4 linked regions of the Homo sapiens genome follow. The protein of the gene in region 2 interacts with the protein of the main gene of each other region in a pairwise test. Each region holds a gene or a part of one and is shown on either strand. Other genes may lie near its edges.

What was found.
Region 1: the proteins of GFAP (region 2) and ZNF410 interact in binary tests that used the Homo sapiens proteins (3 or more experiments, as listed by UniProt).
Region 3: the proteins of GFAP (region 2) and IL16 interact in binary tests that used the Homo sapiens proteins (3 or more experiments, as listed by UniProt).
Region 4: the proteins of GFAP (region 2) and MLC1 interact in binary tests that used the Homo sapiens proteins (3 or more experiments, as listed by UniProt).

Annotation. Positions count from the first base shown.
Region 1 is NC_000014.9:73,917,327-73,925,138, reverse strand, and holds part of ZNF410 (zinc finger protein 410), read right to left. Parts: intron 4,160-7,812; coding exon 4,034-4,159; intron 3,074-4,033; coding exon 2,933-3,073; intron 2,441-2,932; exon of another isoform or gene 2,403-2,440; intron 1,745-2,402; coding exon 1,617-1,744; intron 438-1,616; coding exon of another isoform or gene 336-437; exon of another isoform or gene 320-335; intron 1-319. UniProt on the Homo sapiens protein: Transcription factor that binds to the sequence motif 5'-CATCCCATAATA-3', and is specifically required to silence expression of fetal hemoglobin in adult erythroid cells.
Region 2 is NC_000017.11:44,912,079-44,920,340, reverse strand, and holds the start of GFAP (glial fibrillary acidic protein), read left to right. Parts: upstream 1-4,840; 5' UTR 4,841-4,854; coding exon 4,855-5,315; intron 5,316-6,252; coding exon 6,253-6,313; intron 6,314-6,517; coding exon 6,518-6,613; intron 6,614-6,910; coding exon 6,911-7,072; intron 7,073-8,262.
Region 3 is NC_000015.10:81,199,599-81,207,410, forward strand, and holds part of IL16 (pro-interleukin-16), read left to right. Parts: exon of another isoform or gene 1-212; coding exon of another isoform or gene 213-264; intron 265-802; exon of another isoform or gene 803-872; intron 873-7,812. UniProt on the Homo sapiens protein: Interleukin-16 stimulates a migratory response in CD4+ lymphocytes, monocytes, and eosinophils. Primes CD4+ T-cells for IL-2 and IL-15 responsiveness. Also induces T-lymphocyte expression of interleukin 2 receptor. Ligand for CD4.
Region 4 is NC_000022.11:50,074,837-50,082,648, reverse strand, and holds part of MLC1 (membrane protein MLC1), read left to right. Parts: intron 1-2,251; coding exon 2,252-2,305; intron 2,306-2,629; coding exon 2,630-2,731; intron 2,732-5,146; coding exon 5,147-5,248; intron 5,249-5,736; coding exon 5,737-5,808; intron 5,809-7,812. UniProt on the Homo sapiens protein: Transmembrane protein mainly expressed in brain astrocytes that may play a role in transport across the blood-brain and brain-cerebrospinal fluid barriers. Regulates the response of astrocytes to hypo-osmosis by promoting calcium influx.

The sequences.
Region 1 (7,812 bases), on a different chromosome or scaffold from region 2:
AAAAGTCCTGGCAAAAGCATTAACATGTATGCCCAGAACCCTGTAATCCTGGGTACCCCCAAAGATATTAGAGAATAATGGAGAATATTCAATATAGGATGCAGAGTCATTTGAATGATGCAACAGCTTACTGTGGTATAAAGGTTATAATGAAAAGAAGAAGGCTGGGTGCAGTGGCTCACGCCTGTAATTCCAGCACTTTGGGAGGCTGAGGTGGGCAGATCACGAGGTCAAGAGATCGAGACCATCCTGGCCAACATGGTGAAACCCTGTCTCTACTAAAAATACAAAAAAATTAGCTGGGCGTGGTGGCACGCACCTGTAGTAGCAGCTACTCAGGAGGCTGAGGCAGGAGAATCGCTTGAACCTGGGAGGCAGAGGTTGCAGTGAGCCGAGAACGCACCACTGCACTCCAGCCTGGGCAACGGAGCGAGACTCTGTCTCAAAAAAAAAAAGAAAAGAAAAGAGGAGAAAAGACGGAAGAGCACCATAAAAACTAATGTAATACTGAAAGGATCCAAGCTACAGAGGTTTTGACAAAAGTTTATGCATATGAAATGTGCTCGTGATGAAGTCATCCACTCCCATGACACAAGACCAGTGAAATATCCCAAGATTTTAAAACACTGACCACTTTGCATTCTGTTTCCTGAGTCAAAGCCAAACTACAGAGTTGAAAGTGCTTTAGCTCAACCTCAAACCCTTTTTGTTTAGATCAGAAGTCACCAACCCCCAGGCCATGGACCAGCACTGGTCCGTGCCCTGTTAGGAACCAGGCCACACAGCAGGAGGTGAGCAGCAGGTGAGCAAGCATTACCACCTGAGCTCCACCTCTCCTGTCAGATCAGCAGCAGCAACAGATTCTCATAGGAGCGCAAACCCTATTGTGAACTGTGTATTTGAGGGATCTAGGTTGCGCACTCCTTATCAGAATCTAATGCCTGATGACCTGAGGTGAAACGAAACCGGTCCCTGGTGCCAAAAAGGCTGGAGACCATTGATTTAGGTAATGGTTCTCACTTAGCAAGCAAGTGAACAAATCTGTATATGCCCATTTGGTTAAGCCTGGTATCTCCCAGACATATGACCATAGCAGAATGAACAATAATTATGTTTAATGATTTTGTTACTACCTTTTTTGCTGAGGGACTTTTTCCAGGATGTTATTTCTGGAGAAAAGAAAGGGATCTCTAGGAAATACTTGCTCCTGTCTGGTACAGAAATTTCACCCAATTTACACAGGCCAGGCCCTCTTCTCTGAATAACTTAACAGGTGAGGTCAACATGCATTTATTCAGTGCCTGCTGTGTGCTTTTATAAAATAAAAGCTGTATCATGTTATAGTGTGGCAGAGAATAGTGGGAACAGACATCAACAAGGAATGTATATAAAAGAACTTTAAAGCCGGGAGTCCCAGCTGTGACAGACCAATCTCCAATTCATTAAGACCCTAACCCTCAGGCTCCTTTCAAGCTGAACTCATGCTTAATTTAAAGGAAAATATTCGTGCCAAAGTTTCCAGGAAATGGAAACTGGAGACTTTTTCAGGTCCTCTAAATTCTCAATCATTCCCCACATGAATTGTCACAGAAACAAAGGGCAAGAGACCACTTTACCTCTTGTGGATTTACTGCAGTTAAGACAGAAACTTCATATGATTGCCTCCCTGACTGCATGGTCACCAGGTGATGTGTCACATCAGGCACTGAAGACAGGGAACGTGGGGATCCTTCAGCAAGCACCTCTGTGAAGCAACAGAAAAATGTTTCAATGAAAAGTGAATCCAGAGATACACCTATCTGGATCATTAAGCCTCTCATTAACAACTCTAAAACTCTATTCCTCTATTTCCCACATTCCTCTATTTCTTCCAAGTTAATCCTGTCTGATAAGCATTATCAGTGAATTTGGAAAGTAATATAAAAAGAGAATAGAAAGGCAAGAAATCTTAATACAGGATTTAGAATAATATGGTGTTAGCACTTTTAACTGAATTAAAACTATGTATGAAACAGGCAAAAGTCTTAGGCAAGCAGGTAAGGGAACCAAAGCCACCCTTAAAAGCAGTCGCCAATGATACTAATAGCACTTACTAACTGAATATGATATGAGTAACAAAAACATAGGGTCTCACAGTTACTAAATGTTCATCAGTGGGATCACCATGAAAATCTTCTGGAAATAGTTTATGGATATACCACTTAGCCCTCAAAAAACTAGAAGTTTCTTCTAGGGGTTTTCTAGATTATACAACTATTTTATGCTGTACCATATAATTTAATGTTGGCTTATATACTATCTTTTATGTACTCAATGTTCTTTCCCATATATATGTAAGCTTTCACTTCTCAACTGGATTTTAAGGTCCCTATCTTCTACTTTTGTCTTTCCCATGGTGCCAGGCACACAGTAGGCACTGAATAAATGCATGCTGACCTCACCTGTTAAGTTTTTCAGAGAAGAGGGCCTGGCCTGTGTAACTTGGGTGAAATTTCTATACCAGAGAGGAGCAAGTGTTTCCTAGAGAGCCCTTTCTTTTCTCCAGAAGATATGGCTTTTGAAGGTATGGAGAAATTGCTTTATATCTCCTCTGTAAAACCTGGTTATGTTCTGTTTAAATGTTCTAAAAGTTAAGTTCTTCCATAACTGCAATAGGAAAGATAGAAATAGTTGGGCTAGGATGCTAGGATTAGGAATAATTTTTTCTTAAGAATTTTTTCTTTTTATTCTTTTATTATATTATCTTCAATGAAAAAAAATTTTTTTTTAAACAGATTGACTAATCCACCCCAGAGAATAAGAACACAAATGCTACTCATACCACAGCTACTCATAAGAAATGAGATTTAAACATACATTGTGGAGACACCCCATTCCTTAGCCCCTAGTTGCAGCCCATTTTTCCCAAATAAAGGAGAGTTGGAAGTCTTACCATCATCAACTCCCAGGATAGAATTGGTATTTGGTAGGTTCAAGGACTCTCCACCAAGGCTGGGCTGGGAATTCATAGACACCAGGTTTTTACTGGGTACTGAAGCCTCTTCAAGCAAACTACTGCCCATTAGTGGCTCAGCTGCACAGAGAATAGGTTGTGAGAGACATACAGCAATCAAGGCTGTGCCTGGTCCTCATTTTCTTTCAACAGAAGCTGGCCTTCTCTTTCATTACTAGAAGTTAACCTATAGATGGGATGCCACCCCCTATTTCACCTACTTTCGAGAAACAAGAATAAACCTAGAAGGGAAAGAGTAAGCCTTAGAAGATAATGATCCTTGCTTGTGTTCAGCGTCTGAAGAATTAGCATATGAAACAGGATAGGTGGATCTTTAGAAAGGAATATTTGGAATAATTAAGGAAAGATATGGCGAAGGAATAAGAATTAAAAAGAGTTATCAAATTTCAGGCAGGGCAAAAAGGTAGTCATGACTGGTAAATAAAATATGCTTCCAGCCTGGCCAACATGGTGAAACCCCGTCTCTACAAAAATATAAAAATCAGCCAGGTGTGGTGGCACCTGCCTATAATCCCAGCTACTCAAGAGGCTGAGGCAGGAAAACTGCTTGAACCCAGGAGGCAGAGGTTGCAGTGAGTCGAGATGGCGCCACTGCACTCCAGCCTGGGTGACAAAGCAAGACTCCATCTAAAAAAATTAAAAAGCTTAAACTCTTCCCATGTGGAAATCTTTTATCACTGTGTTACTCAAATGCTTGTTCATGGATCAGCACTAGTTACCATCAAACTCACTAGGGAAACTTTTAAAACTACAGATTCTAGGATCTTGCAAATTATCTCATTTATCAGATTGCTTTGTTTTATTGGTGGGCGGACAAGCAACAAAAAGTATATAAATTTTAAAAGGTTGCAGATGATTCTACTGTATAGCTATGTTTGGAAACCATCAGCCCATCAAATGAGACCAGGTCTATCTACCCAAAACAGAATCAGAAAATTTCCAGATAAGCAGGCAGGACAGTGATTTGGCTCTTGGAACCCTAGAAGTAGTACAGCGTTCCACTATGCCCACCCTCCTCACCAGTTTGCTCCTGCTCTTGACTCCCAGCTGCTCCCAGCTGCAGGTGATGCTTTCTCATATGCACATTCCTGCTTCCACTCTGAGAGAAGGTCTTCCCACAGACTTGGCACTGATGAGGCTTCTCTCCTGAAACAGGGACCAGGTTAAACAAGGAAGCCAAAAGGACAGGAAGAGAATGAACTCAAGACCTAGATGGAGAAACCCAGAGAATGTTAAACTGAACATAAGCAGCTGCTCCTTTTCCCATTCCGCACCTTCCCAGCCTCTCAAACTTCAGTATATGGGGGAAGGCAGGAAGAGTACACCAGGAGGGCTTTAGCACACTCCCTGCTCCCAGCTGCTGGTCCTTTCCAGACCTTCTGTAATGCTGCCTTCACAAAACCTCTTTGGTATAGGACCATGGCAACCACAAAAAATATGCCTTCTTTTTCAGTTAGTCTTCCATGGACCTCTAGGACATGTGCTTTCCTCAAGGATTTCAATCCTGTGTTCCTAATATCCCCTTGTCATATTCCCTGCCACCCTCTTTAGGGTCATCAACATTCACACTGGTGGCTCTTACAACATAATAATCTAAATTGTCCTCTATGTCTTCAAGTCCCAAACTCTCCGTCTCCATTCTACCTACCCAGAAAACCATACTTAGAGCAGGGGTCAAAAACTCATGTCTATAGGAGACTGATAGGTAGCAAAAGTAAGTAAAATGGCCAAGTGGGGGCTGCAGTAACCTAGAGAGTACCTAGAAAAGGGGCAGCTGTTATTCAGCTCTAGCCAACTGTTGCCATGGGTAGATTAAGGCAGATTCTCTGATTTTTTTTTAAGACACTGGAAATAAGGATTTTTAAGTAGAATCTCCCAATTTCTAAATGCTAGGAACAAATTCACAATTGACAAACACATGGTACAGCAATCATCATTGCTGATTGTATTTTGCTGGGAATGCAAAATACAAAAACCTCTTTGGGGGAATCTGACCAGATCTAGAAAAATTGTAGATGCACTTGCCCTTTGACCTAGGAATCCCACTTCTAGGAATATGTCCCAAAATTACAGCAGCAAAATGTGAAATACTCTGTGCACAAGGTTATTCATCACGGCAACATTATTTTAAATGGCTAAATACTGGAAACAACGTAAATATTCATCACAGAGACTGACTAAAAAGCTATAGATACTGCAGTAGTCCTGCATAGCAAAAAAAAAAAAAAAAAAAAAAAAACCTATACAATAGAAACAGGGTGGAATATTACAAAGCTTAGAACTAAAAACTGAATCACCATTTGAACCAGCAATCCCATTACTGGCTATCTACCCAAAGGAAAATAAACTGCTCTACCAAAAAGACACTTGCCCTCACATGTTCAATGCAGCACTATTCACAACAGCAAAGACATGGAATCAACCCAGGTGCCCATCAATGGTAAATACGATACAGAAAATGTGGCACATACACACCATGAAATACTATGCAGCCATAAAAAAGAACAAAATCATGTCCTCTGCAGCAACATGGATGCAGCTGGAGGCCATTATCTTAAGCAAATTAACACAGAAACAGAAAATCAAACACCATGTTCTCACTTATAAGCGGGAGCTAAACACTGGGTACTTATGGACACAAAGATGGGAACAATAAACACTGGGGATTCCAAAAGCGGCTACGGGGCAAGGGCTGAAAAACTACCTATCAGGTACTATGTTCACTGCTTGGTCAACAGGGTCATTAGTAGCCCAAACTTCAGCATCTTGGAATATACCCTTGTAACAAACCTGCACATGTACCCCCTGAATCTAAAATAAATTTATTTTAGCCAGGTGCAGTGGTTCACACATGTAATCCCAGCACTTTGGGAGGCCGAGGCGGGCAGATTACTTGAGGTCAGGAGATCAAGACCAGCCCGGCCAACATAGTGAAACCGCATCTCTACAAAAATTAGCTAGGCGTGGTGGCGGGCGCATATAATCCCAGCTGCTTGGGAGGTTGAGGCAGGAGAATTGCTTGAACCCAGGAGGTGGAAGTTGCAGTGAGCCAAGATCATGCCACTGCACTCTAGCCTGAGCCAGAGTGAGACTCTGTCAAAAAAAAAAAAAAAAAAAAAAAAAAAAAAGGCCGGGCACGGTGGCTTACTCCTGTAATCCAGGCACTTTGGGAGGCTGAGGCGGGAGGATCACGAGGTCAGGAGATCAAGACCATCCTGGCTAACACGGTGAAACCCCATCTCTACTAAAAATACAAAAAGGTAGCCGGGCGTGGTGGCGGGCGCCTGTAGTCCCAGCTACTCGGTACGCTGAGGCAGAAGAATGGCGTGAACCGAGGAGGCAGAGCTTGCAGTGAGCCGACATCACGCCACTGCACTCCAGCCTGGGAGACAGCAAGACTCCGTTTAGGGGAAAAAAAAAAAAAAAAAAAAAAAAAAAAGGCCATATGAAATGTCCAGAACAGGCAAATCCAGACACAGAAAGCAGATTAATGGTTGCCAGGGGCTGGAGAAAGAGAGACATGGTCAATGATACTAATAATGGGACTTCTTTTTCTTTTTTTAATCATCTCCTGGATATGGGGATCCTTTTTGGGATGATGAAATGTTGTGGAGTCGGACAGTAGAGAAAACTGTAAAACTATGAATATATAGTTGGCCATCCACATCCATTGATTCAACCAAGCAGATAAAAAATATTCAGAAAAAATAAAAATAAAAAATAACAGGCCAGGCGCAGTGGCTCATGCCTGTAATCCTAGTACTTTGGGAGGCCAAGGCAGGTAGATCACTTGAGGTCAGGAGTTCCAAGACCTGGCCAACATGGTGAAACCCTGTCTCTACTAAAAATATAAAAATTAGCCAGGCACATGCCTGTAATCTCAGCTACTTGGGAGGCTGAGGCAGGAGCATCACTTGAACCCAGGAGGTGGAAGTTTCATTGAGCCAAGATCGTGGACCACTGCACTCCAGCCTGGGCAACAGAGCGAGACTCCATCTAAAAAAATAAATAAATAAAAAATAACAATATAGCAATAAAAAATACAAATAACCAATATAGCATAACTATTCACATAGCATTTACGTTGTATTAGGTACTATCAGTAATCTAGAGATGATTTAAAGCATATGGGAGGATATGTGTAGGTTATATGCAAATACCATGCCATTTTATGTAAGAGACTTGAGTATTTGTGGATTTTGGTATCTGTGGGGTCCTGGAACCTATACACCACAGATAACAAGGGATAATTATATTACTACTAAAAATCACTTAGTTGCACCCTTTTCTTCTTTTTATATTTTAGATGGAGTCTCACTCTGTCACCCAGGCTGGAGTGCAGTGGCATGATCTCGGTTCACTGCAACCTCCCCCTCCCAGGTTCAAGTGATTCTTGCACCTCAGCCTCCTGAGTAGTTGGGATTACAGGCACATGCCACCACACCCAGCTAATTTTTGTATTTTTAGTAGAGATGGGGTTTCACCATGTTGGCCAGGCTGGTTTTGAACTCCTGACCTCAGGTGATCCACCCACCTCGGCCTCCCAAAATGCTGGGATTACAGGCATGAGTCACCATGCCCGGCCGGACTGCACACTTTTTTGAGATGAATCTTATGGTATGTGAACTATATCTCAACTTAAATAACCTGCATTTGCTTGTATATGCAAAAAGAACCACTGGAAAAGTAAACCAAATAGGAAATAAAAAGTGTTTATACCTATAAGAGAAGGAGGGAGGGAACATGGTAAAGAGACACACCTATAATCAAGGCTTTTTGAAAAAGAAACTGAAGCAAAT
Region 2 (8,262 bases):
GCTATAGCAGTCAGAGTCAAGTCTAGAGAACAAAGCGGGTGATGCCCCTGGGTGAAACAAATTTGGGTTTTAGAAAACTCCGCCTACAGCTTTCTCCCTGCCTCTAAACTGCGGTGGCTGTGGCGGCTCACACCTGACCAGCTGAGCACCACCATCTAGTGGCCACCAGGCTCAGTTCCCTTCCTCGGGACAGGCCATGGATGAACAGACTTGCTGGTCACCAAGGCTCAGCCAGAGAGACTGTGTTCTCTTCACCCAGCTTGCTGACCACCACGCTGTGCCAGGCACTGGGCCAGGGCCAAGGGCCCAAGCAGAACCAGCGGGCAGCAGTCATGTGGCAAAACTGCCGTTTGAATTAGAGGCTGGCCTATTTGGCAAACACCAGGCACCCTGTGTGTGGGTTGATGCCACATGTGGGGCTGGTCTGTCCCAGGAGGCATCTGGGCTTTACCCTGTAAGCAGAAGGTCATCTAGCAGATTCTGATGTGAGGGAGGGGCTCAGGAAGGTCATCTTGTCCTCACCTCAGCTTGAAGCAGGCACAGCTTGGCTGTAGGCTCCTTGAAAGGGCATCCAGACTTCTCTCTCCATGGCTGGTATTATCCTGCTGTGCAGTCTAGAAGGCAGTCTAGGGTTTGGCCAGAGGCTTTAGAAGTTGGGGCCTTCCATTTGGGGAAGCAGGAGAGGAGGCACCCCAGAGAATGGGGCCTGAGCCAGGCTAGGAGGATGGGGGGTTTGGGTGGAGGCTGGACGGGCTGAGGGCCTACCCTTCTCTGTTTGCTGTGTCTGCCTGCAGCAGATGCAAATCAGAGTGTGGTTTAGAACAGAGAGAGGACAGTCACAGCGGCTCACATCTGTAATCCTAGCACTTTGGGAGGCTGAGGCCAGAGGATCACTTGAGGCCAGGAGTTCAAGACCAGCCTGGGCAACATAACAAGACTTGGTCTCTGAAAAAAAAAATTATCTGGGCACACTGTCATGTGCCTGTAGTCCCAGCTCCTTGGCAGGCTGTGGCAGGAGGATTGCTTGAGCTCAGAAGTCTGAGGCTGCAGTGGGCTATGATGGTGCCACTGCACTCTGGCCCTGGGTGGCAAAGTGAGACTTTGTCTCTAAAAAAAAAAAAAGAGAGAGAGAGAACATACTGTCATACTGTCCACCACTAGGGCTTGGTACATGAATGCATATAGTGGAAAATCATGCAGCTGTTAAATGATGATGCAGACAAATATTTATTGATGTGGAAAGATGTTCACAACATATTGTTGAGTGAGAAAAGCAAATTACAAAATAATTTGTACGGCATGAGCCCATTTTGAAAAAAATGATTATATATGTGTGGAAAAAATCTGGTAGTGTTTATCTCCAGGTGGCAAAATGATGGCTAATTACATTTTTTTGTATTGCTTATCTATAGTTTCTGACCTTTCTACAATGAATATTTAATTAAAAAGATAATGAAAGTTTGGAACACAACCACGACCAAATCTGTCTGTATCTTTGGTTCTCTGTGCAGACACCTTTAGATAGTTAAGGGTTGGCCAGGCGTGATCTATATGTACCGGTTGTATAGGTCATGCCTGTAATCCCAGCACTTTGGGAGGAAGAGGTGGGAGGGTCACTTGAGCCCAACAGTTCGAGACCAGCCTGGGCAACATGGCGAAACCTTGTCTCTAGTAAAATACAAAAATGAGCTGGGCATGGTGGTGTATCTCTGTGGTCCCAGCTACTAGAGAGGCTGAGGTGGGTGGATCGCTTGAGCCAGGGAGATTGAGGCTGTAGTGAGCTGTGATAGCACCACTTCACTCTAGCCTGGGCAACAGAGCAAGACCCTGTCTCAAAAAACAAAAACAAGATAGTTAAGGGTTGAGTGTGAGGAAAGGTCTGAGGGTTGAGAAGGGGTGGAGGATGCACCTGGGCCTATGACAGGGGTCCACGGAGGTGGCTGATGGCAAAAGCTGGGGGACTCCAACTGCTGATGCTGAAACAAGCTTGTGTCTCACATACACAGGGACAGTTCACTGAGCTTCAATGACAGGCACCTCCTGCTCATCACATCTTTTCTCTCTAGGACAGCTTTGCCCTTATTTTAACTAGACTTCCCTTGAACCAAAAGGGAAGGCTACATGCTGTGACTTGCTGGGCAGCCTGGAAAGGCGGGCCACTCCTAGCCACAGAGATGAGACAGAGTTCAGACAAGAGCTTATCCCCAGTCTTCCTTTTCTATTTTGTTTATTTTATTTTATTTTTTTATTTATTGAGACAGAGTCTCTGTCACCCAGGCTGGGGTGCAGTGATGCGACATTGGCTTACTGCAGTCTCCACCTCCTGGGCTCAGGTGATCCTCCCACCTCAGCCTCCCGAATAGCTGGGATCACAGTAGTGCACCACCATACCTGGCTAATTTTTTTGTATTTTTTGTACAGACAAAATTTCACCACATTGCCCAGGCTGGTCTCGAACTCCTGGACTCAAGCGATCCGCCCACCTCAGCCTCCCAAAGTGCTCGGATTACAGGCATGAGCCACTATGCCCAGCCTTGCTCTTCCTTTAAAGCCTCCTGTCCTTCCCCAGGTCCCCAGTTCATAGCAGGATCAAAGGTCACTGGGCGCTCACCCCGTCTTCAAGATGCTCTTTCCTATGTCACTGCTTACGCCCAGGTCAGATGTGACTAGAGCCTAAGGAGCTCCCACCTCCCTCTCTGTGCTGGGACTCACAGAGGGAGACCTCAGGAGGCAGTCTGTCCATCACATGTCCAAATGCAGAGCATACCCTGGGCTGGGCGCAGTGGCGCACAACTGTAATTCCAGCACTTTGGGAGGCTGATGTGGAAGGATCACTTGAGCCCAGAAGTTCTAGACCAGCCTGGGCAACATGGCAAGACCCTATCTCTACAAAAAAAGTTAAAAAATCAGCCACGTGTGGTGACACACACCTGTAGTCCCAGCTATTCAGGAGGCTGAGGTGAGGGGATCACTTAAGGCTGGGAGGTTGAGGCTGCAGTGAGTCGTGGTTGCGCCACTGCACTCCAGCCTGGGCAACAGTGAGACCCTGTCTCAAAAGACAAAAAAAAAAAAAAAAAAAAAAAGAACATATCCTGGTGTGGAGTAGGGGACGCTGCTCTGACAGAGGCTCGGGGGCCTGAGCTGGCTCTGTGAGCTGGGGAGGAGGCAGACAGCCAGGCCTTGTCTGCAAGCAGACCTGGCAGCATTGGGCTGGCCGCCCCCCAGGGCCTCCTCTTCATGCCCAGTGAATGACTCACCTTGGCACAGACACAATGTTCGGGGTGGGCACAGTGCCTGCTTCCCGCCGCACCCCAGCCCCCCTCAAATGCCTTCCGAGAAGCCCATTGAGCAGGGGGCTTGCATTGCACCCCAGCCTGACAGCCTGGCATCTTGGGATAAAAGCAGCACAGCCCCCTAGGGGCTGCCCTTGCTGTGTGGCGCCACCGGCGGTGGAGAACAAGGCTCTATTCAGCCTGTGCCCAGGAAAGGGGATCAGGGGATGCCCAGGCATGGACAGTGGGTGGCAGGGGGGGAGAGGAGGGCTGTCTGCTTCCCAGAAGTCCAAGGACACAAATGGGTGAGGGGACTGGGCAGGGTTCTGACCCTGTGGGACCAGAGTGGAGGGCGTAGATGGACCTGAAGTCTCCAGGGACAACAGGGCCCAGGTCTCAGGCTCCTAGTTGGGCCCAGTGGCTCCAGCGTTTCCAAACCCATCCATCCCCAGAGGTTCTTCCCATCTCTCCAGGCTGATGTGTGGGAACTCGAGGAAATAAATCTCCAGTGGGAGACGGAGGGGTGGCCAGGGAAACGGGGCGCTGCAGGAATAAAGACGAGCCAGCACAGCCAGCTCATGTGTAACGGCTTTGTGGAGCTGTCAAGGCCTGGTCTCTGGGAGAGAGGCACAGGGAGGCCAGACAAGGAAGGGGTGACCTGGAGGGACAGATCCAGGGGCTAAAGTCCTGATAAGGCAAGAGAGTGCCGGCCCCCTCTTGCCCTATCAGGACCTCCACTGCCACATAGAGGCCATGATTGACCCTTAGACAAAGGGCTGGTGTCCAATCCCAGCCCCCAGCCCCAGAACTCCAGGGAATGAATGGGCAGAGAGCAGGAATGTGGGACATCTGTGTTCAAGGGAAGGACTCCAGGAGTCTGCTGGGAATGAGGCCTAGTAGGAAATGAGGTGGCCCTTGAGGGTACAGAACAGGTTCATTCTTCGCCAAATTCCCAGCACCTTGCAGGCACTTACAGCTGAGTGAGATAATGCCTGGGTTATGAAATCAAAAAGTTGGAAAGCAGGTCAGAGGTCATCTGGTACAGCCCTTCCTTCCCTTTTTTTTTTTTTTTTTTGTGAGACAAGGTCTCTCTCTGTTGCCCAGGCTGGAGTGGCGCAAACACAGCTCACTGCAGCCTCAACCTACTGGGCTCAAGCAATCCTCCAGCCTCAGCCTCCCAAAGTGCTGGGATTACAAGCATGAGCCACCCCACTCAGCCCTTTCCTTCCTTTTTAATTGATGCATAATAATTGTAAGTATTCATCATGGTCCAACCAACCCTTTCTTGACCCACCTTCCTAGAGAGAGGGTCCTCTTGCTTCAGCGGTCAGGGCCCCAGACCCATGGTCTGGCTCCAGGTACCACCTGCCTCATGCAGGAGTTGGCGTGCCCAGGAAGCTCTGCCTCTGGGCACAGTGACCTCAGTGGGGTGAGGGGAGCTCTCCCCATAGCTGGGCTGCGGCCCAACCCCACCCCCTCAGGCTATGCCAGGGGGTGTTGCCAGGGGCACCCGGGCATCGCCAGTCTAGCCCACTCCTTCATAAAGCCCTCGCATCCCAGGAGCGAGCAGAGCCAGAGCAGGATGGAGAGGAGACGCATCACCTCCGCTGCTCGCCGCTCCTACGTCTCCTCAGGGGAGATGATGGTGGGGGGCCTGGCTCCTGGCCGCCGTCTGGGTCCTGGCACCCGCCTCTCCCTGGCTCGAATGCCCCCTCCACTCCCGACCCGGGTGGATTTCTCCCTGGCTGGGGCACTCAATGCTGGCTTCAAGGAGACCCGGGCCAGTGAGCGGGCAGAGATGATGGAGCTCAATGACCGCTTTGCCAGCTACATCGAGAAGGTTCGCTTCCTGGAACAGCAAAACAAGGCGCTGGCTGCTGAGCTGAACCAGCTGCGGGCCAAGGAGCCCACCAAGCTGGCAGACGTCTACCAGGCTGAGCTGCGAGAGCTGCGGCTGCGGCTCGATCAACTCACCGCCAACAGCGCCCGGCTGGAGGTTGAGAGGGACAATCTGGCACAGGACCTGGCCACTGTGAGGCAGAAGTGAGGAGGGGATGGGGAAGGGGGGCCTTGTGAGCAGAAGGGGCTGAATCCCCAAGAAGGAGTGCCCGAGAAGTCTCAGGGAGGGGCCGAACCTCCCTGCTCCCTGGGCCTCCCTACCTCTTGATGGGGCACTATCCTTGCCCCCCAACATGATGGGAGGGACCAGAAACAGGCCCAGGGCCCCGGGGATCTGATGCCCGCATGCCTTCTGCCAGGAGTCCAGGGTCCCCTCAGCACCTCCCTACTGGGGAAAGCAGTGCAGGAGCAGCGGGGCCCCTGTGTTTCATTCATGGCTGGGCTTTGTGACTGTGGGCAGCGAGCTCACCTATTCTGAGCCTGTGTCCATATAAAGGAGGAGTTGGAAGCGGAGAAGGTTGATGTCCATGAGGGAGATTGGATTCTGGGGTGAAGAAAGTGAGGGAAAGAGCAGGCAGGTCTGGGCGCAAAGCACAGGTGACTGCCTGCCACCAGCTTGTGACCCCCATCAAGTTACTTTGACTTGCACAGCTGTGAAGCGGTGGTCATAATAAAATTCATTTCAAAAGGTGGTTACCTGGGATCAGAGGAATCCCCAGGGGCATGGCGCTTCACTGAGCTGACAGGACATGCATGTGTGCCTTCAAGTGCAGGAGGACATGTGCGTGTGTGTGTGTGTGTGTGCAACAGTGAGTGTATGCTTGTGGATGCGCCTGTGTGAGCAGAAGCAGGTGCACCAACCCTGATAAGGCACCTTAGTAATGAGTTAAGGCAAAAGCCCACATCTGCTCATCCTCCAGACAAGTCCTCTGTCTAAGGCCCCCCAACCCTTAATCCTCCTGCTGCTCTACTGGTCCTGGGTGGGGGTGGTCTCTGTGACAGCTGCCTCAAGGGAGACTGAGGCAGGTATTCAAGTGTCCTCAGAAGAGCCTGGACCCAGGAATGTGTCCCCCCACTCCAGGCTCCAGGATGAAACCAACCTGAGGCTGGAAGCCGAGAACAACCTGGCTGCCTATAGACAGGTCAGGGAGGTGGAGGGGAGGGGCAGGGGAGGGAGGAAAGGATTGATGGCCACCCACCCAAACACAGCCCCCAAGCTCAGCCCGCCAGAGCAATGTGCTGCTCCCCACTGCCCCAGAAGGAGGGGTAAGGCAAGGCTGAGGAATGGGGAGAAGGAGCCTGGGGCCCCAGTGGCCCTCTACTCCTCACCCCTCCTGCCACTCCAGGAAGCAGATGAAGCCACCCTGGCCCGTCTGGATCTGGAGAGGAAGATTGAGTCGCTGGAGGAGGAGATCCGGTTCTTGAGGAAGATCCACGAGGAGGTGAGGCCAGGGCAGAGGGAGGAAAGCTCAACACAGAGATTGCAACTGAGAGAGGGAGAGACAGAGACAGAGAAGCTGAGACTGAGAGAGACACTCAGAGAGAGGAGAGAAACAGAGATTGGCAGGTAGAGACAGGAAATGAAAGACAAACAGAAAGACACTAAGGGAGACGGAAAGAGACAAGAGAGCATTCGAACTCCTGGCCGAGGGGCAGGCAGAAGAGGACACAATGGCGTGGGGAACCCCAGCTGTGGCCTGTACCCTGAGCCCTGGTACCGCTTCTCTCACCCTGGTCAGGAGGTTCGGGAACTCCAGGAGCAGCTGGCCCGACAGCAGGTCCATGTGGAGCTTGACGTGGCCAAGCCAGACCTCACCGCAGCCCTGAAAGAGATCCGCACGCAGTATGAGGCAATGGCGTCCAGCAACATGCATGAAGCCGAAGAGTGGTACCGCTCCAAGGTAGCCCTGCCTGTGGGCCAGCCTGCCTCCTCCAGGCAGCCCTTCTTGCTCTGTACAAGAGAATGGGGGAAGGAGGGTGGAGGAAGCTGGGAGAATATCCTCTCCAGGTGACTGACTTTCACCAGAGAAGTGAGATGGCTTGCCCAGGGTCACACAGGCACTATTGCTTTCAAAAGTACCCATTATTATTACTGCTACTATTGCTATTATTAGTAGTAGCTGATACTGTTCTGTTCTAAGCCCTGTGCTTTTCATGGATTACCTTACTATGAAGTAGGTGCTGTTCTTTGACAGATGAGAGAGCCGAAGTCCAGAGAGGTTAACTAATTTGCTCAAAGTCACACAGCTCCTAAGTGGTAGAGTTGGATTTCCAACTCTAGCACATCTCACTTGGGAGCCTGCATTCCATGCCTCTGCCAGTCTGTTTTGGGTTACTGAGCCTCTACCATATGCCAGGCACCCCCCAGGACACAGAGAGGTGTCTGACCTGGAAGGTGTGATATTGACGTGCACCCAAACATAGTGCCCGTAGAGAACACCACAGCTCAGAGCTTATATGTAGTGTGGGAGCCAGGAAAGACACTGTAGAGGGGGCATTTGGGCTAGGCAGGACAGGCACGCTGTGGACAGGAAGAGAAGAAGGGAGGGCCATTCCTAGTGGAGGACAGAGCCTGGAGGCAGAAAAGCACAGAGAGGCAGGGCCCCAAGATGCTAGCCTAGCCAGGGCACCTAGCTGAGGAGTGTGAGTGGCAGAAGCCACTGGTGTCTGAGCAGGGTGAGGGCCCGATGGGGCTGGGAGGACCTCCCTGCAGGCAGGGGAGAAAGGGCTATTAGAACCCAGGGTGAGGCCAGGCGAGGTGGCTCACACCTGTAATCCCAGCACTTTGGGAGGCCGAGGCATGCGGATCACCTGAGGTCAGCAGTTCAAGACTAGCCTGGTCAACATGGTGAAACCCCGTCTCTACTAAAAATACAAAATCAGCCGGGTGTAGTGGCGCATGCCTGTAATCCCAGCTACTCAGGTGGCTGGGGCAGGAGAATTGCTTGAACCTGGGAGGCAGAGGTTGCAGTGACCCGGGATTGTGCCACTGACTTCCAACCTGGGCGACAAGAGCAAGACTCTGTCTCAAAATAAAACAAAAAAAACAAAAAAACAAAAACACACAAAACACCCAGGCCTCCGCTCGCCT
Region 3 (7,812 bases), on a different chromosome or scaffold from region 2:
TCCAGTGGACAGTTACAGCAGCTAAGACATGGCTACCTTGCTCAGCCAATAGGAGGCGGTCACCTACAAACATCCCTTCCAAAGGTTCAAGGCTCCCCTGAGAACTTGGATGCTGGGGAATGGTGCACCTTCCCTGCTGCTCACTGCACCTCTCACCTGGCAAAGAAAAGCCACAGGAAATCTAAGCCCTTTCTGCAGTCTGGCATCGGCATATGAAAGATTCCAACGAGGAATTTCAGAACTCATCCCAGCTCCCGAATCTGAGTAAGCACAGACCTCTTGAGTAGGGCTGAGCAAATGCGGCAAAATCAATGCACATATGACAAGATTCAGTGGCCCAAAGAAGGGAGCTAAATGAGGAATCAAAGCAAATACCCCATATGGAATTGCTGTAAAAAATCAGAGAAAACCTGAAAGTAGTGGTTTTCAAGCATGACCCACTAGTGGATTGAAAATCAACTTAGCGGGTTGGAACCAACTTCCTTTTTCTAAAACAAAAAAAGAATAGCATACATCAGATTGCATCAGGTTCTTAGCAAAATCATATTTTATATTATCTTTTTCATACCAAAGATATTTTATATTATTTTTATTATACCGTAGTAAAGGTATTGTTTCATGAAAGTTTTTAGTTATATATATTTATTTATTTATGTATACATATAAATCTTATGTGTATGTGATCCATGTACTATGATGTAAAATGTAAATTATTATGGTAAGTCAAGATTTTTTTAATTTTTAAAATTCTTTAAAAATTATTTTTATTTATTTATCTATTTATTTTTTGAAACAGGGTCTCACTCTGTTGCCCAGGCTGGAGTTCAGCAGTGCAATCCCGGCTCACTGCAGCCTTGACTCCGTGAGCTCAGGTGATTCTCCCCCTTCAGCCTCCCGAGTAGCTGGGACTACAGGCACACGCCACCACACCTGGATAATTTTTTGTATTTTTATTAGAGATGGGGTTTTGCCATGTTGGCCAGGCTGGTCTCAAACTCTTGAGCTCGAGTGATCTGCTCGCCTCAACCTCCCAAAGTGCTGGAATTAAAGTCGTGAGCCACCATGCCTAGCCTAGGTCAAGATTTTAAAAGTTTCATAAATAGTCCTGTAGAACACTGGGTGGAGTTTGGAATGGTGAAAATGTGTCAGGAGAGTATTGTAACTGAAATATTCCTGATCTTCTCTTTCAAAAAGATGGCCTTCTTCCCATTATCCAAGGCAAGGATTTCAGGCCTGAGTCAGCCATAAGCTCATCTGTCTTTTTTTCTGTACTTACCTCCTCATAAATGGATTAAGAGAGCCTCGAGCAATGGTGAGGGTTGGAGAAGGTGGACAGGTGGCCCAGTCTTATGCGCTTTCCCTCTCTTCCTTCCTTCTCCTCATCCTCCAAGGATGGTTGTAGCCAACTCCAGCCAAAGTGCAGATGCCAGAGAATCCTGCAGCAGTTGCTGAGAACACAGGATACCTGTCACATTTACTGAAGCAGTGGCAGGACAATGCATCCCCTGCATTGAGCTAGTTGTCAGAAGCAGAAAATAAAAAGTGTGTGTGTGTCTCTGTGTGTGTGTGTGTGTATGTGTGGTGAAAAAGAGAAATATATCTAAAAATAATCTTAAAAGACATGATATGTAATTTCTTACCAAAACTCAAGCCAAAGCAATCACACATACACCCACACACATGCACGCACACACCCCCATCCACACACACACACACAGAAGTAAATGACAGCAGTTGGACCATCAAAATCTGAAAAATTCTTTCAGGCCAAAGACTCCATAATGCTCTATAGCTGTTATTTTGCATTTCTTTGAATCTCCTCTCAGTTCTATTTAGAGATCACGAAATGTCTAATTTAATGGCCCTGCCCTTAGTTCTCCAGGAAGGAGATCTTAGTTGTTCATCCACGAACAACTTTTTGAGCCACTTTCCTACTTCTATTTCTTCCAGTAGGCAGATCATATTTTGGGTTTCTTTGTTTTAAGTTTGTGGTTTTTGTTTTTCCCTCTTTTTCTTTTTAGGTTGTAGTTAAGTGGTGTATACAAATTTATTAGCAATTTATTATATTGCCACTTTGTATTTTAATCTTTAATATTAAATTTTGTGTTTGGTAAAAATGCTGTAATTAGTAAAATGTAGAGTAATCAGTTTTTACCCATTCTCTGCTCTTCAATAACAGCTTGTTGAGTATTCTCTCTGATTTATTCTAGCATCAGACACACACACGCGCACACACTGTGCTGCAGCATGTTTTGTTTTCCAATTCTATGTAGCACAAAAAGACTTAACCTCATTCTTCTCCATATCTCAACAGTATTCCATGTATCTTGATGATCACTTACAATATAAGGCAAGTAAGCATAGGCAATTCATCAGATTTGAACCAGAGATGGGGTTACTAAGTGAACTATTAGTTCCCCAGAAGAATTAGCCCAAGCAAAGGTGTTGTACAGTATGTAAAATGTCTTTTCCTACTTTATACATTTTATCTGGCCAGAGAACACCTTTAAACATTAAATGCAATCATCCTTAGTCATTCAACAAATATTTACTGAGCAATTGATAGAGGCCATTCGCCAAGCTAGGCCTCATGGATCAACTCGAAATATGACAGACAGACTCTGCCCTCAGGGAGCTTAGAGTTCAGTAGACATGACCAGTGGTGACACAAGCCACTGGAGTAGCATCAGATGAGTGCTTTGGTAGTGGAAGAACCTGTTCTCAGAGCACAGACAGCTTTGGGGGTCTGTATTGGTTTGTGGTTTCATTTTAAAGAAGTGTTATCCAAAAATAGGGTTTGAAGAGTGATGAAAATTTAGCATCATCAAGGACTATAGAAAATTTGGAAGGCATATCTCCTAATGCTATCCCTCCCCCCTCCCTACACCCACAACAGTCCCCAGTGTGTGATGTTCCCCTTCCTGTGTCCATGTGTTCTCATTGTTCAATTCCACCTATGAGTGAGAACATGCAGTGTTTGGTTTTTTGTCCTTGCAATAGTTTGCTGAGAATGATGGTTTCCAGTTTCATCCATGTCCCTACAAAGGACATGAACTCATCATTTTTTATGGCTGCATAGTATTCCATGGTGTATATGTGCCACATTTTCTTAATCCAGTCTATCATTGTTGGACATTTAGGTTGGTTCCAAGTCTTTGCTATTGTGAATAGTGCCCCAATAAACATACGTGTGCATGTGTCTTTATAGCAGCATGATTTATAATCTTTTGGGTATATACCCAGTAATGGGATGGCTGGGTCAAATGGTATTCCTAGTTCTAGATCCCTGAGGAATCGCCACACTGACTTCCACAATGGTTGAACTAGTTTACAGTCCCACCAACAGTGTAAAAGTGTTCCTATTTCTCCACATCCTCTCCAGCACCTGTTGTTTCCTGACTTTTTAATGATCACCATTCTAACTGGTGTGAGATGATATCTCATTGTGGTTTTGATTTGCATTTCTCTGATGGCCAGTGATGATGAGCACTTTTTCATGTGTCTGTTGGCTGCGTAAATGTCTTCTTTTGAGAAGTGTCTGTTCATATCCTTCACCCACTTTTTGATGGGGTTGTTTTTTTCTTGTAAATTTGTTTGAGTTCATTGTAGATTCTGGATATTAGCCCTTTGTCAGATGAGTAGGTTGCAAAAATTTTCTCCCATTCTGTCAGTTGCCTGTTCACTCTGATGGTAGTTTCTTTTGCTGTGCAGAAGCTCTTTAGTTTAATTAGATCCCATTGGTCAATTTTGTCTTTTGTTGCCATTGCTTTTGGTGTTTTAGACATGAAGTCCTTGCCCATGCCTATGTCCTGAATGGTATTGCCTAGGTTTTCTTCCAGGGTTTTTATGGTTTTAGGTCTAACATTTAAGTCTTTAATCCATCTTGAATTAATTTTTGTATAAGGTGTAAGGAAGGGATCCAGTTTCAGCTTTCTACATATGGCTAGCCAGTTTTCCCAGCACCATTTATTAAATAGGGAATCCTTTCCCCATTGCTTGTTTTTGTCAGGTTTGTCAAAGATCAGATAGTTGTAGATATGCGGCATTATTTCTGAGGGCTCTGTTCTATTCCATTGGTCTATATCTCTGTTTTGGTACCAGTACCATGCTGTTTTGGTTACTGCAGCCTTGTAGTATAGTTTGAAGTCAGGTAGCGTGATGCCTCCAACTTTGTTCTTTTGGCTTAGGATTGACTTGGCAATGCGGGCTCTTTTTTGGTTCCATATGAACTTTAAAGTAGTTTTTTCCAATTCTGTGAAGAAAGTCATTGGTGGCTTGATGGGGATGACATTGAATCTATAAATTACCTTGGGCAGTATGGCCATTTTCACGATATTGATTCTTCCTACCCATGAGCGTGGAATGTTCTTCCATTTGTTTGTATCCTCTTTTATTTCCTTGAGCAGTGGTTTGTAGTTCTCCTTGAAGAGGTCCTTCACATCCCTTGTAAGTTGGATTCCTAGGTATTTTATTCTCTTTGAAGCAATTGTGAATGGGAGTTCACTCATGATTTGGCTCTCTGTTTGTCTGTTATTGGTGTATAAGAAAGCTTGTGATTTTTATACATTGATTTTGTATCCTGAGACTTTGCTGAAGTTGCCTATCAGCTTAAGGAGATTTTGGGCTGAGACGATGGGGTTTTCTAGATATACAATCATGTCATCTGCAAACAGGGACAATTTGACTTCCTCTTTTCCTAATTGAATACCCTTTATTTCCTTCTCCTGCCTAATTGCCCTGGCCAGAACTTCCAACACTATGTTGAATAGGAGTGGTGAGAGAGGGCTTCCCTGTCTTGTGCCCGTTTTCAAAGGGAATGCTTCCAGTTTTTGCCCATTCAGTATGATATTGGCTGTGGGTTTGTCATAGATAGCTCTTATTATTTTGAAATACGTCCCATCAATACCTAATTTATTGAGAGTTTTTAGCATGATGGGTTGTTGAATTTTCTCAAAGGCCTTTTCTGCATCTATTGAGATAATCATGTGGTTTTTGTCTTTGGTTCTGTTTATATGCTGGATTACGTTTATTGAATGCTAAATGACGAGTTAATGGGTGCAGCACATCAACATGGCACATGTATACGTATGTAACAAACCTGCACGTTGTGCACATGTACCCTAAAACTTAAAGTATAATAATAACAAAATTAAAAAAAAAAAAGAAAAAAAAGAAAATTTGGAAGGCATTGGAAGCAGCCTGCACCAAGTCCTGGAAGCTAGAGAGCGCATGGGACATTCAGGGGACTGAAAAGGTTTAGTGCTGTAATAGAATGGAGTTCAAGATAGGGCAGAGCAAGAGCCTGGAGGGGTTGGGGGAGCAGACCATGATGATAAAAAAATTGACAGGCCACAAAACAAGACAAATTTTAAGTCTCAGTGACGGTTGTTAATACGATTTTGAAATAAAGCAAATGATAAATCTTAGACCGGGCGCAGTGGCTCACACTTGTAACCCCAGCACCTTGGGGGGCCAAGGTGGGTGGATCATTTGAGGCCAGGAGTTCAAGACCAGTTGGCCAACCTGGTGAAATCCCATCTGTACTAAAAATACAAAAATTAGCCGGGCATAGTGGCACGTGCCTGTCATCCCAGCTACTCGGGAGGCTAAGGCAGGAGAATGGCTTGAATCTGGGAGGCGGAGGTTGCAGTGAGCCGAGATCACACCATTGCACTCCAGCCTAGATGACAGAGCAAGACTCCATCTCAAAAAAAAAAAAAAAATCTTGAGAGATGATATATAATGATCTATGATGTCCCCTAAATAGTCAATCACTCTGAGAGCACCTAGCACCTCACCTCTTGCATAGGGAAGAGGCATCAGATAGTGCCATTCTTGCAATCAATGAAGAGGAAAAATACAGGCTCAAATATTGCTTTGAAAAATTCTTTACATAGCCACCAGTAATATCAAATAAAATGAATGAAACCTATGATTCATTAAGAAGGAAAAGAAAGTGTGAATAAGTTGACTGGAAAACAAGAAAAGGAATAATTAAGGAGCCATAATAAGAAAAACAAAACATGTGAGAAGAAAGATGAATCAATTAAGCTCTGTAGTAAGATTACACATTAAAATAAAAGAGACTCTCAGATTCAGTTTAAAAAAGGGAAACAAAAAAAGCCTAAAGAAACAAACTCTCTCTCCCCAGTCCAATTATATCCCACTTTCAAGAGACACATTTAAAACTTAATCACATAAAGTTACAAATAAAGGGATAGGAAAATACTGTGCAAATGCAAATTAAAAGAAAGTGAGGTGTCAGTGTTAATTTTGTCAGACAAAATAAAAATTGAGGCAACTATTAAATAGATCAAGAATTACTTTTTTACAAAATGATAAAAAGAGCACTCAATGAAGGCATGAAAATCAGAAAACTTTGGGTAAACATAAAGCGTCGAAATATGTAAAACAAAAAAATTAGAGATATACTCCAAATATGGTGTTAGATTTCAATGTACACCACTGTTAAGATTTTTTCAGATTAATTAGACAAAATGTACATAAAGAGCTTGAATTCTATGACTTACAAAATTGAATATGTGCTTACATATATATGCAGTCATGTGTTGCATGGCAATGAAGATAAGTTCTGAGAAATTTCATCGTCGTACAAACGTTACATAGGGTACTTAAACAGACCTGGATGGTATAGCCTACTACACCCCAAGGCTATATGGTATTGCCTACTGCTTCTAGTCTACAAGCCTGTACAGCATGTTATTGTAGGCATTTGTAACACAGTGGTAAGTATTTGTGTATCTGAACATTTGTAACAAAAGGTACAGTAAAAATATGGTATTTTAATCTTATGGGACCACTATCATATAAGCAGTTCTTTGTTGACCATAATGACTGCATTTTAATATCACATTTGAATATATACATATTTGAAACCCAAAACACAGAATAATCATTCTTTTCAAATGTGCACAGAACACATAAAACACTTAGTCACATCACATACTGGCTAACAGAGTAAACCTCAATGAATTCCAACAAATAAAAATAAGACACATCCTGTGGCACGATGCAATTAAACTGGAATTTTCTAATAAAAAATTGTAAGAACAGCAACACTAAATCTGGGAAATTTAACTACATGAAATTAACAATAACACCAAAAATCTCCTGAAGAACTGAGTTTAAATTGGGAATCAAAACTGCAATTACAGACCATTCCTAAAATAACATTTAGAATATTGTATTTCACAATTCCTGGGTTGGGGCCAAAAGGATGTTCAGAAGAGAATTTCGGGCTTTAAATAATGATGATGATGATGATGATGATGATGACGATGACATGGTGGCAATAAAACCACCCAACAAACCATGCTAAGAAATTTACATCCAGGCCAGGTGTGGTGGCTCATGCCTGTAATCCCAACACTTTGGGAGGCCGAGGCAGGTGGATCACGAGGTCAGGAGATCAAGACCATCCTGGCTAACACGGTGAAACCCCGTCTCTACTAAAAAAACCACAAAAAATTAGCCAGGCGTGGTGGTGGGCGCCTGTGGTCCCAGCTCCCCTGGGGAGGCTGAGGTAGGAGAATGGCGTGAACCTGGGAGGCAGAGCTTGCAGTGAGCTGAGATCATGCCACTGCACTCCAGGCTGGGCGACAGAGTCAGACTCTGTCTCAAAAAAAACAAAAAAAAAAAAAAACAAAAAAAAGAAAAGAAAAAAGAAATTTACATCCAATATTTCAATTTATAATCACAGTGTTGCTGTGAGATGGCTAATCATCTGCATCTTACAGATTTTTAAAAAGTGATTCACAAAAAGGCTAAGTAGATTATTTTAAATTTCAACTT
Region 4 (7,812 bases), on a different chromosome or scaffold from region 2:
CTTCATATGACTTTAGTTTCACGTAGAGTTCATCACCTTTGAGAATTACTGATGAAGCAGGCCTGAACCTTGCTCTGCAGACGCCTGTGCAGGGAATTGCGTGTTGATTCTGAGCCTGCGGCTGCGTCCTGCCAGAGCTGGCAGCATCTGCCCTCAGGGGACTGGGACCTGTGCCCCACATCCTCCCAAAGCTTCATGTTGTGTTTTTAGAAACTTACACAGTGCCAAGGCCGGTGGAGGCACCCACTGATCCTCAGAGCAAGGGAGGACAGACAACCGCTGTCCCCTGGTCCTCTGTGAACCCCGGCCACTGCCTCCCCAGCGTCCCGGCAGCTAGAGCACCATGCTGGCTGACCCCTGGGCTCTGGCCCGCAAGCCATGGACCCCATGCCCCTCTGGCCCGCAAGCCGCGCACCCCATGCCCCTCTGGCCCGCAAGCCGCGGACCCCATGCCCCTCTGGCCCGCAAGCCGCGGACCCCACGCCCCTCCTGCTTCAGCTGGTCCCGAGCTCTCCCCTCCTCTCGCTTCCACATGCCTGCTGGGTCTCTGGCCCCTGCCCTTTCTCTAGGGACACTGTTGGTGACTGTCCCCAGCAGCGCCCCCGAAATGTCTTAAAAACAAAGTGGATGCCCCGCCCCGTGCTGTCCTGGGTCTCTGCTCCCTTAGAACAAAGCCCTTTGGGGCAGGTGACCCGTCCCACTCTGCTGCCCTCTCTGGAAGCTTCTCCGTGGCCTTTATCCTCACCATGGGAGCCGCCCTTGTCCCAGTGGAGCTGTGAGCTGTGCCCCTTCAGCCTCAGCGGCTGCCGGATATGGGCAAGTGCCCACCCCCGCCCAGCCTTGGCCCCACTCGGCCCTGCCCCCGGCCTTTCTTCTCTACCCTGGGCCCTCGTGGCACCTGAGTGGGTGCTGAGCTGAGCCTGGCTGTCCTGGCCCTAGCTCTGCCCCTCGCTCAGGCCCCGACGGGGCTTCTTCTGCCTCCTCACCCAGCACTGCTGTGCTCAGCCCCTCAGGGCCTGCACCCCCGACTCAGGGCCCGGGGTCCCATGGCTGCAGGAGCAAGGCCCTGCACGGCAAGGGCCACAGGCCTGGGCTGGCCCGACTCCATCCACCTCCCTGTCCCTGACGTCCCAACCTCCCTCCCTGGCCCTGGACTCCTAGCCTTGGTGTGGCCCTGTGGGGACAAGAAGGCTGAGGACAAGAAGGCTGTGGGACTCCTTTCTGCCTCCCTCACATGCAGAGTCTTGCTACTTCCTTTGCTCCTTCCTTCCTCTTTCTTTCTTTCTTTTTTTCTTTCTTTCTTTCTTTGACGGAGTCTTGCTCTGTCACACAGGCTGGAGTGCAATGGCGCCGTCTCTGCTCACTGCAACCTCCACCTCCTGGGTTCAAGCAATTCTCCTGCCTCAGCCTCCTGAGTAGCTGGGACTACAGGCACCCGCCACCACGCCCAGCTAATTTTTTTTGTATTTTTAGTAGAGATGGGGTTTCACTATGTTGGCCAGGCTGGTCTCAAACTCCTGACTCTGATCCACCCGCCTCAGCCTCCCAAAGTACTGGGATTACAGGTGTGAGCCACTGCACCAGACCTCCTCTTTCTTTCTTTCTTTCTTTCTTTCTTTCTTTCTTTCTTTCTTTCTTTTTTTGAGACAAGGTCTCACTCTATCACCGAGTATTCACAGCTCACTGCAGCCTCGAACTCCTGGGCTCAAGAGATCCTCCCAGCTCAGCCTCCGGAGTAGTTGGGACTAGAGGTGTGAGCCACTGCACCCGGCTGATACTTTTTCCTTTTTTGGGTAATTTTCAGCAAAGACCAGGTCTTGTGCCTGCGTGAGTTACATTCTAGGCTTCAAAGCTTATCCAGCTAGAAGAGCCTTCATTAACAAATATCTTTTTAGCACATCAGAAAAATAAAAACTTCTTTCAGAATAAATTATTTTGAAGTACCTGGGGGTTGGGCGCAGCGGCTCATGCCTGTAATCGCAGGGCTTTGGGAAGCTGAGGTGAACAGATCATTTGAGCCCAAAGTTAAGATCAGCTTGGGCAACAGAGTGAGACCCCATCTCAAGAAAAAATTAAAACTGAGAAGTACCTGGGGGCCTTCTAGTCAAGCCAACCCACTGTGTTGCATGGACTGGCAACACTGTTTTGTGAATATGATTCAGATCCTTCTGGAAGCGCAAATGTTAGAGTATTTCAGAGTCTCAGTTGCTCAGGTGAGCGGCAGGCTCATGGGATTCCGGTTTCATTCCAGTGCATCCCCTCGGCAATTGTGAGCTTCACCGTCTCCAGGAGGAACGCCAATGTGGTGAGTCTAGCTTGCAGGCAGCCTCTGCCAGGGAGAAAGCCGGAGGGGCTGACAGACAGTGTGCCCATGTGTGCTTGTGTGTGTGCCCACGCACAGACGTTGTGGCACCGAGAGGGGCCCCCGAGGTTGCCCCCCAGACAGTAAAGCTCCTGCCCAGCCCAGCCTTTGCCGCACAGAGGGGAGAGCGGGCTGAGCACGCAGGACTCCCCACCATTATGTCCTAATCAGGATAATTTTTAGTGAATGGCCTGAAGTGTGGTTTATCTGTTACCTTTTTTCTTTTATTATTCAAAGAAGGAAAACCCCTCCTGCCTTGTTTTTCAGATTCCCAACTTTCAGATATTGTTTGTTTCCACGTTTGCTGTGACCACTACGTGTTTAATTTGGTTTGGATGCAAACTAGTCCTGAACCCATCAGCAATAAACGTGAGTTCACACGAGCTTCGCGCAGACGCCTGACACCCACAGCCCCACTCCCACGAATGGTGTCAGCAAATGTTTGTTGAGCTGGAAATAGGTGGTAAATGTTATTCACAGCTCGTGAGTTTGACTAAAGTTGAGAGATTTATGCATCCAAAGAAAATAATTGTCTTTATTGAAGTCTCGTGATTCTGCGGGACAGATTTATTGGTAAACAATGTCTTTTCCAACAGTCCTTAAAAATTAACAGTGACATAATACTATGTTTCATCCAATCTGTGTAAGACAGTTGTTCAATGCACCTCTAAACAAAAATGTGAAATTGTAGGGGGCAGAGGTTGTGGGAGCCGAGATGGCGCCACTGCACTCCAGCCTGGAAGACAGAGCAAGACTCCGTCTCAAAAAAAAAAAAAAAAAAAAAAAGACAAAAATCCCAAAGGAAACCAGGACCTCATCCGAGATACTGCAAGGAGGGCCTCCTGCTTTGTGTGACATGTGGAATGCACTTGATGATTGGGGAAAGCTGGAGGAGGCTTGAGTATGTCCTGGCCACTCTCGTTGGGCAGGAAAAATGAGCAGACACAGGAGGACCCAGTGGGAACACCCACACTGCCTTTTTGTTTTGTTTTGTTTTGTTTTTGAGAAGGAATCTCGCTCTGTCGCCCAGGCTGGAGTGTAGTGGCGCCATCTCGGCTCACTGCAACCTCTACCTCCCGGGTTCAAGCAATTCTCCTGCCTCAGCCTCTGGAGTAGCTGGGATTACAGGCGTGTGCCACCACACTCGGCTAATTTTTGTATTTTTAGTACAGACAAGGTTTCACCATGTTGGCCAGGCTGGCCTTGTACTCCTGACCTCAGGTGATCCATCCACCTCGGCCTCCCATAGTGCTGGGATTACAGGTATGAGCCACCGCGCCCGGCCTGTGACGCTTCTTTATTAAGACGGAGAGCAGATGGGGTGTGGTCCCTGGGTCAGTGGCTTGTATCTGAACTGCTCAGAGGCAAGTTACTCACTGTAGCTGTCGGCTGGCCCTGGGAGGAGCTGTCTCTTCAGGATCAGGAAGGAGCCAGAGGTCAAAGCACCAGAAATACAGAAAATAAAAGACAAGGTTAATGTCACACTTTTCTGAATTTTAGAGTTCTCCTTATGCTTTTGTCTTTTTGATCTGTCATTTTTTTTTTTTTTTGAGACAGTCTCGCTCTGTCGCCCAGACTGGAGTGCAGTGGCTCCATCTCGGCTCACGGCAACCTCCGCCTCTCGGGTTCAAGCAATTCTCCTGTCTCAGCCTCCCGAGTAGCTGGGATTACAGGCGTGCGCCACCGTACCCAGCTGATTTTTGTATTTTTAGTAGACAAGGGGTTTCACCATGTTGGTCAGGCTGGTCTGGAACTCCTGACCTCAGGTGATCCAACCGCCTCGGTCCCCCAAAGTGCTGGGATCACAGGCGTGAGCCGCCTCCCTCTGCCTGATCTGTCAGTTTCTAAGAAAAGTGTTTCAAGTCCTTCCCCACCTCTACTGATATATCTACATCTTCCTGTGGCTCTGTTATGACATCATATATTTCGAGGCTCTGTTTTTAGTTGAATGTGGTTCTGCACTCTTTCTTTTTTAAATGTATTTTAAAAATTGTCAGGCCGGGCGCGGTGGCTCACGCCTGTAATCTCAGCACTTTGGGAGGCCGAGGTGGGCGGAACACCTGAGGTCAGGAGTTCGAGACCAGCCTGACCAACATGGAGAAACCCCTCTCTACTAAAAATACAAAATTAGCCGGGCGTGCTGGTAGGTGCCTGTAACCCCAGCTTACTCGGGAGGCTGAGGCAGGACAATCATTTGAACCCAGGAGGCAGAGGTTGCGGTGAGCCGAGATTGCGCCATTTGCTCTCCAGCCTGGGCAACAAGAGCGAACCTCCGTCTCAAAAAAAAAAAAAAAATTGTCAGACAGCTACACTGACTTTTTAAAATGTATGCTTCTATGAATATTAACACACATATAAATTCATGTCACTGCCAATACGGTCAGGGCCTGCAGTCGTTTCATTACCCTCCAAAAAACCTTATGTTCTCAGTGCTTGACAATCATGCATGAAGCTACTCTAAACATTCCGTGAAGGCTTTTGTGGGAACAAGGAGCGTTCAGAATGGGGTCGGTAGACCAGAGCCCAAGGCCAAATCCAGCCCTGGCCTGTGTTTGTACAGCCTTTGCACTAAGAATGGTTTTAAAAACTAAAAGACCCCAAAGGCCCATGTGAGGCAGGAGAGTGTGCAGCCCACAGTGCCTCACAGCTGGCCCTGGATGGGAAAAGTGGGGACCGTGGCTGAGAGTCCTGCGCAGCCTGCCCGTGAGGTGGTCCGGTGGACGCTGAAGCGCGGTGGCGTGAGAAAGGCGGGCCCGGTGCTGAAGCGTGTGTGCCCCTTGGCAGATCAACTTCAACCTCATCCTGCTGCTCCTGCTGGAGCTGCTCATGGCGGCCACGGTGATCATCGCTGCACGGTCCAGCGAGGAGGACTGCAAGAAAAAGAAGGTGGGTGCAGCTTCTGACCCCGCAGGGCAGGGGGTGCAGAGGCATCACCCCAGGGTGAGCGAGGTGGGTCTCAGCGTCACCCTCGGAGGGCCGATCTGGGCTGCTCCAGGGCATTCCCATGAGACCCCTCTCTCCTGGGTCTCAGAAACCCCGGCCAGGAGGGGCTCTGGAGCTGGGTGAGGGGTTGGCGGCCGCTGGCTACAGGGAGGTGAAGACAGATGCTGTACCCTCCCCTCCCCCTAAGCCTGACTCAGTCCAGTGCTCGTCCCCAGGGGATCACCAGGAGACACCACATCTGCTAATTTTCATATGCAAGGACAATGTGTGTGAACATTTCCTCAAGCCCAAAGATCCACGGGCGCCTCCAAGGCGGTCTCGCATCTACACGGCAGGCTGACCTGACCCACTGCCCACGGCGGCCGGATGCCAGCGGCAGTGCTGAGTCCCTGTGCCCGTGCACCCGGGGTGACAGTTCTGTTTCTTCGTAGGGCTCCATGTCTGACAGCGCCAACATTCTGGACGAAGTGCCATTTCCTGCTCGGGTCCTGAAATCTTACTCAGTAAGAAAACTTCCCTTCTTTCTCTTTTCTCTCATACTCTGTCGGGGGTGACTGAGGCTGGATTAAACGTCACGTTTCGATTCCGAGTTGGCGAAGAGTTGGCTGTCTACACCGCATGGCGGCGTGCGCCTCATCTGTGGAGACTCTAGTCTGTTATTGGTATCATTGGTAATAACCTTCCTTATCGCGAAAGGTGCTGCTGGTGTCCTGTAATTTTTAGGGGGAGTTTGTTACTGCCGTAGGTGAGTTGACACTGTTGTCCCCGAGGAATTTTTTTTTTTTTTTTGAGACGGAGTCTCACTCCATCAGCCAGGCTGGGGTGCAGTGGTGCTATCTCAGCTCACCGCCACCTCTGCCTCCCAGGTTCAAGTAATTCTCCTGCCTCAGCCTCCTGAGGAGCTGGGACTACAGGCACATGCCACCACGCCCGGCTAATTATTTTATTTTTAGTAGAGGCAGGGTTTCGGCATGTTGGCCAGGCTGGTCTCGAACTCCTGACCTCAAGTGATCCACCCACCCAGGCCTTCCAAAGTGCTGGGATTACAGGTGTGAGCCACCGCACCTGGCCTCTTTCTCCTTCTTACTTTCAACTTTTCTTGCCTTGTACTTTGGTATAATTGTTATAAGCAGCACGTAACTGTATTTTGTTCTTTATCTTGTCATTCTCTCTCCCTAGCTTTTTGAATGTAGCCCATTTCCTCTGAGAGTTATTACTGATAAATTTCTACTTATTTTTACCATCTTTTGAGTTTTCCATTTTCCCTGATTTTGCCTTTTTCCCTCCTTCCCTGCCTTCTTTTGAATTGGCAGAGGCTCCGTCCTTCCTTTTCCCTCTAATTTTGGATGGGAAATTTTTCAGTATTCTTTTGGGGGTTGCCCTTCATATTCTAATACGCTCCTTGATAAACAGACCATGCGGGGTCTGTCCCCCTTCCCTCCGCCTTGGCCTTGTTGTCTAGCTTGTGACATTTAGTGACATTTTGCCTTTTTACTCCAACAATGGGACAGCCTCCTGTGTGCTTGACTGTGTCTGTGTGTGTTTCCCAGTGCCTTCACTTCCCCTTATTTAGCATTTCAGTCCTCTCTTAGGTTCCATTTCCGTTCTGCTTCTTTTTTTTTTTTCCTTTTTTTTTGAGATGGAGTCCTGCTGTTGCCCAGGCTAGAGTGCAGTGGTGTGATCTTGGTTCACTGCAACCTCTGCCTCCTGAGTTGAAGCGATTCTCCCGCCTCAGCCTCCCGAGTAGCTGGGATTACAGGTGCCCGCCACCACGCCCAGCTAATTTTTGTTATTTTTAGTAGAGACGGGGTTTACCATGTTGGCCAGGCTGTACTCAAACTCCTGACCTCACGATCCGTCTGCCTCGGCCTCCCAAAGTGCTAGGATTACAGGCATGAGCCGCCGTGCCTGGCTGGGAATTCAGCTTTATTTGTGCATCTGGAGTTTTGTGCCTTCTGGACGCAAGGCCTGGCTGCCCAGGTCCCTTCCGGCCCCCAAGCCCTTGCTGGCCCACTCCTTATGCCTGGCTTTCCTGCTGGCCACAGCTCTGTGTTTGCGACTCACAGAGATCCTTCACGGGAGCAGGTTTTCGGGCGTGTGTTTCTTCCCCAGCCCTCCCTGAGTCTGGCGGTGCTGGTTGCGGCCCCTCCCTGAGTCTGGCGGTGCTGGTTGCGGCCCCTCCCTGAGTCTGGCGGTGCTGGTTGCGGCCCCTCCCTGAGTCTGGCGGTGCTGGTTGCGGCCCTGATGGTGCCGGGCAGATGAGTCCACAACCAGGGCTTAGGCCAGCAGGGTTCTTGGCTTTGTCCAGGAAAGAATTCAAGGGCGAGCTGGAGGTGACAGACAGCAGCTTTGTTTGCAGTGGCAGTATAGCAGGGCTCTCCAACCGGCAGGTGCCTCGAGCAGCAGCTCAGAGACAGCTCTGCCTCCTATTTATACCCACTTTTAAGTATATGCTAATTAAGGGGCAGATTATGCAGAAATTTCTAGAAAAGGGGTGCTAACGTCCA